2 linked regions of the Homo sapiens genome follow. The protein of the gene in region 1 purifies or fractionates together with the protein of each later gene. This does not show direct contact. Each region holds a gene or a part of one and is shown in the gene's direction. Other genes may lie near its edges.

Region 1 (5,506 bases):
CAGGTGCCTGTAATCCCAGCTGCTCAGGAGGCTGAGGTAGGAGAATCGCTGGAAACCGAGAGGTAGAGGTTGCAGTGAAAGGAGATCGCGCCACTGCACTCCAGCCTGGGCGACAAGAACAAAACTCAAAAGAGAGAGAGAAAAAAAAAAAGGCCAGGCGCGGTGGCTCACGCCTGTAATCCCAGCACTTTGGGAGGCCGAGGCAGGCGAATCACCTGAGATCAGGAGTTTGAGACCAGCCTGGCCAACATGGTGAAACCCCGTCCCTCCAAAAACAAAACAAAACAAAACAAACAAAATTAGCTGGGTGTGGTGGGATTCATGCCTGTAATCCCAGCTACTCGGGAGGCTGAGGCAGGAGAATCGCTTGAACCCAGGAGGCGGAGGTTGCAGTGAGCCAAGATGCTGAGTGCCGCTGCACTCCAGCCTGGGGGACAGAGTGAGACTCTGTCTCAAAAATCATAAATAAATAAATGATAATAAACGAACAGAGCCCCCACGGTGGCCCATACACATTGAAGGCCTCCTGCCCCAGCAACACTTAGGTTTCCAGTGCACATCCAGAGCACCAACTGTTGATAACCTGTTCCCACATCTGCACCCTGGAGGGTGGGCCTTTTGCTTGTTTTGCAACTCCAGACCAGCTCTGGCTTGGCCGATCCAGCAATTATCTCCGTTAACTTGTTAGGCGGGACCATACTTTCTCCAAGGAAGTCTGAATGCTCTCCAAATTTGCCCCTTTTTTGGGGATACTCCCTCAGCCCTAAAGTACCACATAGAGTTTCCTTTTATCTTTTTTTTTTTTTTTTGAACTGAGTTTCGCTCAGTCACCCAGGCTGGTGTGCAATGGTATGATCTCAGCTCACTGCAACCTTTGCCTACTGGGTTCAAGAGATTCTCCCGCCTCAGCCTCCTAAGTAGCTGGGATTACAGGCACCTGCCATCATACCTGGCTAATTTTTGTATTTTTAGTAGAGACAGAGTTTCACCATGTTGGCCAGGCTGGTCTTGAACTCCTGACCTCACGTGAGCCACCCACCTCGGCCTCCCAAAGCACTGGGATTACAGGCGTGAGCCACTGCGCCTGGTTTTTTTTTTTTTTTTTTGAGACAGAGTCTCACTCTGTCGCCCAGGCTGGAGTGCAGTTGCGTGATCTCGGCTCACTGCAATCTCCATCTCTCGGGTTCAAGTGATTCTCCTGCTTCAGCCTCTGAAGTAGCTGGGATTACAGGTGCATGCCACTGTGCCTGGCTAAGTTTTGTATTTTTAGTAGAGACGGGGTTTCACCATGTTGGCCAGGCTGTTCTCGAACTCCTGACCTTGTGATCCACCTGCCTTGGCCTCCCGAAGTGCTGGGATGACAGGTGTGAGCCACCATGCCTGGCCTCCCAGGTTACCTTTTATCTTATACTTACTCTTTAATCACAATCTTTTTTTTTTTTTTTTTGAGACAGGGTCTCAGCCAGGCACCGTGGCTTACACTTGTCATCCCAGCTACTTGGGAGACTGAGGCACAAGAATCACTTGAACCTGGGAAGCAGAGGTTGCAGTGAGCCGAGATTGTGACGCTGCACTCCAGCCTGGGCAAAAGGGTGGGACTCTGTTTTAAAAACAAAAAAGAGATAGGGTCTCATTCTGTCGCTCAGGCTCGAGTGCAGTGGTGCCATCGTAGCTTACTGCAGTCTCAACCTCCTGGCCTCAAATGATCCTCCTGTCTCAGCCTCCCGAGTAGCTGGGACTACAGGTGCATGTCACCATGACTGGCTAATTTTTATGTTTTTAGTAGAGACGGGTTTTACCATGTTGCCCAGGCTGGTCTGGAACTCCTGGCCTCAAGTGACCCACCCACCTTGGCCTTCCAAATTGCTGGGGTTACAGACGTGAGCCACTGTGCCCGGCCTATTTTTTTTTTTTTTTTGAGACAGTTTTGCTCTTGTTGCCCCAGATGGAGTACAATGGCACGATCTCAGCTCACTGAAATCTCTGCCTCCCAGGTTCAAGATATTCTCCTGCCTCAGCCTCCTGAGTAGCTGGAATTACAGGCGTCAACCACTATGCCTGGCTAATTTCTTGTATTTTTAGTAGAGACGGGGTTTTACCATGTTGGCCAGGCTGGTCTCGAACTCCTGACCTCAGGTGATCCACCCTCCTCGGCCTCCCAGAGTGCTGGAATTACAGGCGTGAGCCACGCCTGGCCAATTTTTTTTTTTTTTTTTTTTTTTTTTTAAGAGACAGTTCTTGCTTAGTTTCCCAGGCTGGTCTCAAACTTCTGTCCTCAAGTGATCCTCCCATCTTGGCCTCCCAAAGTGCTGGGATTGCAGGCAAGAACCACTGTGCTCAGCCTGGACGCCATTTCTGATGCCTGGATATCATGCCCTTGTATGATTAATTTAAGCCTGTCTCCATTGATAATTTTGGTTTCTTCCAGTTTTTCCTCTGCTAAACAATACAGTGTTAAACATCCTTGAACATACTTCTGTATTCATTTGTAGCAGAACCTCTACCAATCACTGTTTTGGTTATTTCCAGTTGTTTTGTTTGATTTCTAGCTACAAAATAACACTGGAATAAATTTCCTCATCTTTGCACATTTTTTTTTTTTTTTAGAATTTAGCTTTTTTAGAATTTAGAAATTTTAGAATTTAGCATTTTTGCTTTTAACATTTCTTTTTGTGTTGGTCTTGAGCCAGCCCAGGGCAGTGTTGCTGCATATTGCATGGATGAAAGGCTGAAGGCTGCCTCCTCTTGCAGGCTGGCTTCTGAGATTGCACCTTCTTCTCCTGCTACTCCTCCAAATCTATGACCCTTCAAGGTAAGAAGATGGTCTATGGGCAAGGGGTCTGGCTAGTCCAACCTGAAGAGAGGGGCTTCTGCCAAACAAGTGTGCTGTGCTCCAGGCTATGCATCAGGGTGGCTTGACAGTGTCCCAGCTCTCTCTGCATCCTAGTTACTTCTGAAAGCCACAGTCACCACTTTTTCTTCCTTCTTTCCATCCTTCCATATGCCATTTACCTACCCATCCCCTAATCCACCCACCCACCCATCCACCCATCAGTCTACCTCCTGTTGGGTTATCTCTTCACCAGTCTTTCCAGCTCTCTTTAATTTCCCTCCCTCCCTTGCTTCCTTCCTTCTTTCCTTTTATTTGACACGGAGTTTCACTTCTGTTGCCCAGGCTGGAGTGTGATGGCGTGATCTTGGCTCACTGCAACCTCCTCCTCCCGGGTTCAAGCAATGCTCCTGCCTCAGCCTCCCGACTAGCTGGGACTACAGGCTCATGCCACCATACCTGGCTCTTTTTTTTTTTTTTTTTTTTGAGACAGAGTCTTGCTCTGTCACCCAGGCTGGAGTGAGGTGGCGCGATCTCGGCTTACTGCAACCTCTGCCTACCGGGTTCAAACAATTCTCCTGCCTCAGCCTCCTGAGTAGCTGGGATTACAGGCACGAGCCACCATGCCGAGCTAATTTTTGTATTTTCAGTAGAGATGGGGTTTCACCACGTTAGCCAGGCTGGTCTCAAACTCCTGACCTTGTGATCCGCTCACCTCGGCCTCCCAAAGTGCTGGGATTACAGGCATGAGCCACTGTGCCTGGCCTACTTTTCTGTATTTTTAGTAGAGACGGGTTTCACCATGTTGGCCCGGCTGGCCTCGAACTCCTGACCCCAAGCAATCTGCCCACCTTGGCCTCCCAAAGTGCTGGAATGACAGACATGAGCCACCGTGCCGGGCCAATTTGCCTTTAACACTTTATTCATCAGCTTTATTTACCTATTCATCCAAACCTTCATCTGTCTTTCCAACCCATCTACCATTCACTCATCGACTGATTCATCCATTCAGTATCTAGTCCTGTATCTATCTGTCCATCCAACTTCCAATCCACTCACCATTTATCAGTCAAGATGCCCCCCCCACCCAATACCTACCCATTCACAGCTTGGAACCAAGCTCTATGACTGAGATGGGGACACAGAAATGACTCTGTCTTCTAGGATTCACAATCAATGGGGAGAGGCAAATAATCTCCCCCACCACACTTCTCTCTCTCTCTTTTTCAAACACACACACACACACACACACACACACACACACACACACACAGAGGCAAACAGGAAATTTCCAAAACATTGTGATCAGTGCTAAACCCAGGGTACATCCAAGATAAAGTTTGAAAAGCAGGCCGGGCGCGGTGGCTCACACCTGTAATCCCAGCACTTTGGGAGGCTGAGTCAGGTGGATCACCCGAGGTCGGGAGTTCGAGACCAGCCTGGCCAACATGGTGAAACCCCGTCTTTACTAAAAATACAGAAAAGTAGCCAGCCAGGCATGGTGGCGTGCACCTGTAATCCCAGCTACTCGGGAGGCTGAGGCAGGAGAATCGCTTGAACCCAGGAGGCGGAGGTTGTGGTGAGCCAAGATCACAGCATTGCACTCCAGCCTGGGCAACAAGAGCAAAACTCTGTCTCAAAAAAAAAAAAAAAAAGAAAAGAAAAAAGAAAAGCAGGTAAGTGGTCGGGCATTCAGGTGTCATACACTGTGTGCCAAGATGAAGTGGCCGTAGGGTGATGAGAGGTGGATATAAGGATGGCAAAGACCACTTGGGAGAGGGAGGGATGGAAAAAGGGAGGCGGAAGATCGCAACGTGCCAGGAACAAGATCTGGGCCTGGGGGGCCAGTGTCCACCCCAGCCAGGAGACCTCTTGTTTGCAGGACCTGCTACACCCTGACCACCCCCTGCCGCCCCCACAGGCAGAGCTGACCTGTCCGGTAATCAAGGCAATGCAGCCGGCCGCCTAGCTACAGTTCACGAGCCAGTTGTCACCCAGTGGGCGGTGCATCCTCCAGCCCCCGCTCACCCCAGTCTCCTGGACAAAATGGAGAAAGCGCCTCCACAGCCCCAGCACGAGGGCCTCAAGTCCAAGGAGCATCTTCCGCAACAGCCTGCCGAAGGCAAGACGGCGTCCCGCCGCGTCCCACGCCTCCGGGCTGTGGTCGAGAGCCAGGCCTTCAAGAACATCCTGGTAGACGAGATGGACATGATGCACGCCCGTGCAGCCACGCTCATCCAAGCCAACTGGAGGGGCTATTGGCTCCGGCAGAAGCTGATTTCCCAGATGATGGCGGCCAAGGCCATCCAGGAGGCCTGGCGGCGCTTCAACAAGAGACACATCCTTCACTCCAGCAAGTCGTTGGTAAAGAAAACGAGGGCGGAGGAGGGGGACATACCTTATCACGCCCCACAGCAGGTGCGCTTCCAGCATCCGGAAGAGAACCGCCTTCTGTCCCCGCCCATCATGGTGAACAAGGAGACCCAGTTCCCTTCCTGTGACAATCTGGTCCTCTGCAGACCCCAGTCGTCCCCCCTCCTGCAGCCCCCAGCAGCTCAGGGTACCCCAGAGCCCTGTGTGCAGGGTCCTCATGCTGCCAGAGTCCGGGGGCTGGCCTTCCTGCCACACCAGACGGTCACCATCAGATTTCCCTGCCCAGTGAGTCTGGACGCAAAA
Region 2 (3,500 bases), on another chromosome or scaffold:
TGTCTCTCCCCCCCGCCCACGTGTATGCATGTATGTATGAACATTGATGTCTGGTGTAGTGCAAAGGCCTTGGATCAGAGGTCAGAAGACGTGGGTTCTTGGCCCCACCACTAACTCAGCATGTAATTTTGGAAATTTCACTTTTTTTCTCTGAGCCTCACTTTCCCCATTTATAAAATGAGAACATTGGTTTAGGTTACTTTAGGTTGATTTCACCACCCCAGCAGGAGCCAGGGCTCTGGGAAGGAGAGGTCTGCATAGGAGGTTGGAAAGGGGTGTTGGAGAGGGGGTTCTTCACAGCTGACCTTTGGGCAGGACACAGCAAGCTCCAACTTGGCAGAGCAGAGTGTCTCCCACTTTCATGATCTTTCCCTGACTTCCCTCCCCAAATCCTCCCATTCTTTGCCACCACAGTCAGGCATCCCAGCACTTACCCCCACCCCCTGGGGCTTCCTCCCCTGCCTCTTCCTGTACCAGGCAGGTGTATGAGAGAGGATCTACAGGAAGCCTTCCAGACTGGGTGAGTGATACACATACTTGCTCCCTGTTCCTTGCTCTTCCCTGCAGTGTCTATCTCAGGCCCTTTAAACTGAGAGAACAAACATTAAAGGCCCAAACCTTTACGTCCTGCCACAATCGGACCTGAGCTACCCTGCATGTGTATTGTGAGGTGTGGTCAGCCTTAGATGTCAGGTCATAACGGTGACTCCTTTGAATAACATTTTCATTTGAAAACTAGTTTTAATTTTCCATATTGGTCTGGCAAGGAAGCCAGGGCTAGAGTTCATATTCCCACCTCACAGATGAGAAAACAGGTTCAGAAAGCTAAAATCTCATAGCTAGTAAGTAGCGGATCTAGAACATGAACCCATATCTTCTGACTCTAGATCCTGTGTGCTTTCCAGTACTCCCAGGCCTGTGTGTCCTACAGCACGTGCCTAGGGGATAAGGAATTAATGTGGGTGTGGAGAAGGTTTAGGGTCAACAAAACAGAGGCTCCATCTCTTAATTTCTTGAAATCCTGGCACTGTACTGTTGGGTGGGACTCAGGAGAAGTTTCCTAGGGCATGTGCATGGGGCCTTGGGTGCAGACTTGAGGGGCTGCTAGACTCTTGTGAGTTCTGGGGGGAGGTGGGGGTGGGTGGTTGGGTAGGATGTTTGCAGGTTAAAGGGTCTGGAGTGGCTAGAGGTTTGGGAAGGTGCCAGTGGGATTCCGAGCTGCTTTTGGTGACTTCCGGTCTTACACTATGCTGAGATAACTCAAGTCCCTTTCCCCTCTCTACCCTCTCAGGACTGGCAGCCACCCTTTGCTGTGGAAGTGGACAACTTCAGGTTTACCCCCCGAATCCAGAGGCTGAATGAGCTAGAGGTGAGAAGACTAGGAGCTGGTGGTGGGGTTGGGAGAATGTATACCTGAGTTCTAATCCCACTTCCCTTATAGTTTCTCTGGCTGAGGTACTTTACCTAGCTAGGCCTTTATTCTCTCTTCTGTGAAATTGCATTACTTTAGTGTGCCCAGGGCGTGGAAGAAGCTTTAGAGCTCTAAATATAACCAAGAGCCAGGGGCATTTAGCATTTGTGATTTGATAGCCCAAAGGCTGGGGACATATATCCCTTTCTCACAAAGGTTTGCTACTTCTGAAACTCCCCTGTAAACTAGCCTACCCTAGCTGAGTCAACAAAAAGGAATTATGGAACTGGCTGATACCCCTTCTTCCTTGGCCAGCTGAATGTGGCTTCATATATCCAATTCATCCACAGCCCTGTGCTTTCTACTTTGCTTCCATGGGTGCTTGGTAAGGTGGGAGTTTGGGTAGATGGGCAGAACAACACAAGAACTGGGCTCTGTGGAGGCTGGAATGGTTAGAGACTTGGCCAGGGGTCAGGCAGGTAGGATTTTCCTTCTCCCTTTTGTTCTGTACAGGAAGTCCAGGCCCTTTTCATGGACAGGTGGGGTTTTTCCTGCTTGAGAATGCCCTGGGGTAGTGAGATTAGGTTCCCTAAAGCCAGTTCCACGTAAGATCCTGGAGTTTTCCATGGCAGCTCTAGGTTAGGCATATGTTGCCACTCCCTCCCCCATTATTATGTACCCACAAATCTTAATAGATGTCCAAGGGGTGGGGCATTAGGCCCAGGCCCAGCTGAATACTTATACCCTAAAAGTTCACTTGTGTTCTAGACCAGAGTTCCTCAGCCTCGGCACTATTAACATTTTGGGAAGCTAAGGTGGGAGGATTGCTTGAGCTCAGGAGTTCAAGACCAGTTTGGGCAACATAGCAAGACCCCATCTCAGAAAAGAAAAATATATCTTGTCAGGTTTATAGGGGTACAGCTTGGGCAAGATGTTGCCTAGCATGACACAAGGGCAGGTTTTCTGTAGAGGGAGTGCTGACTAATAAGAAGGAGCAGGGATGAGGCCAACTTCAGAAAGCTAAGGGGCTGAGGTTGAAGGAGCACTTCCTTGCCCTTTGAGAGTTCTCACAGCCAAGGAACTGTAGGTTGTTTCTTTCTACAAATAGACCTTAGTTTTTCTCAACTATGAAATGGAAAGAGCTGTCTTTGTTCCCCCTAATGGGATCAGGGCAAGGTAGTGAATGGTAATGACTATCTAGTTCTTCCAAGAACCAGGCTCTCTGACTGGAGTGAGGAGGTTGTAGACTTGGGGCCTATGGGAGTCCTTCTTGGTTACTGAGATTTCAGGGAAGCATCATACATATCTTGTTTCTAGTCTCCTTGGCCCACATTGGGTCCTGGGTTGGCCAGGTGCTAGTGCTACTCTGATATACCATCTCTTAGTTCTAGGCCATTCTGTCTATAGTTATAGCATGCACTTTCACCCTTTAGCCACCATGGAACAAGTTTGGTGGTACATAAGGAGGTGCATGTGCCTTTTTGGAGCTTGCTTTCTCTGAAACATGCCTAGAGCTTAGATATAATTCTGAAATCTGCAGAGGATCTTCACTGGTCCCCTCATTAAGTCTACCCCTCTGGGGTAAGTGGACTGTGCAGTTATTTTCCTTTTATAATTATTAGTAAAAGGAAAAAGGAGTCCACAGTGGAACTGATTTGCTCAAGGCAGCATAGCAAATCAGTAGCAGAGGGAGAGCCAAAGCTCAAATTATTTGGCACCAAAATATCTTGATGCTTGCTGTGTGTCCTAACTCCTCTGAGCCTCTGTTTCCTCATCTGTATAGGAGATGATAATACTCACATGACCTTGTCAGGGAGATTAGAGGACATATCTAAAGCTTTTGGCAGTTGTGACCCTCTCTATTGGGACCTTGGGCTTCTCTGATTGACTGGAAGGTGACAAATGAGAGAGAGGTGGCTGGGTGCAGTGGTGCAGTGGCTTGTGCCTGTGATCCCAGCTCTTTGGGAGGCCGAAGTGGATGGATTGCTTGAGCTTAGGAGTTTGAGACCAGCCTGGTAACATGGTGAAACTTCATTGCTACAAAAAATACAAAATTAGCCGGGCGTGGTGGCGTGCGCCTATAGTTCCA

Evidence for each region. Proteins that work in one complex are often made in the same cells at the same time.
Region 2: the proteins of IQCN (region 1) and KDM5C purify together in Homo sapiens (affinity purification with mass spectrometry; 2 studies listed by BioGRID and IntAct, with this or other methods). This does not show direct contact.

Annotation. Positions count from the first base shown.
Region 1 is NC_000019.10:18,266,772-18,272,277, reverse strand, and holds part of IQCN (IQ domain-containing protein N), read left to right. Parts: intron 1-2,686; exon of another isoform or gene 2,687-2,690; 5' UTR 2,691-2,799; coding exon 2,800-2,812; intron 2,813-4,712; exon of another isoform or gene 4,713-4,751; coding exon 4,752-5,506. UniProt on the Homo sapiens protein: Essential for spermiogenesis and fertilization. May be required for manchette assembly in elongating spermatids.
Region 2 is NC_000023.11:53,218,708-53,222,207, reverse strand, and holds part of KDM5C (lysine-specific demethylase 5C), read left to right. Parts: intron 1-1,291; coding exon 1,292-1,369; intron 1,370-3,500. UniProt on the Homo sapiens protein: Histone demethylase that specifically demethylates 'Lys-4' of histone H3, thereby playing a central role in histone code. Does not demethylate histone H3 'Lys-9', H3 'Lys-27', H3 'Lys-36', H3 'Lys-79' or H4 'Lys-20'.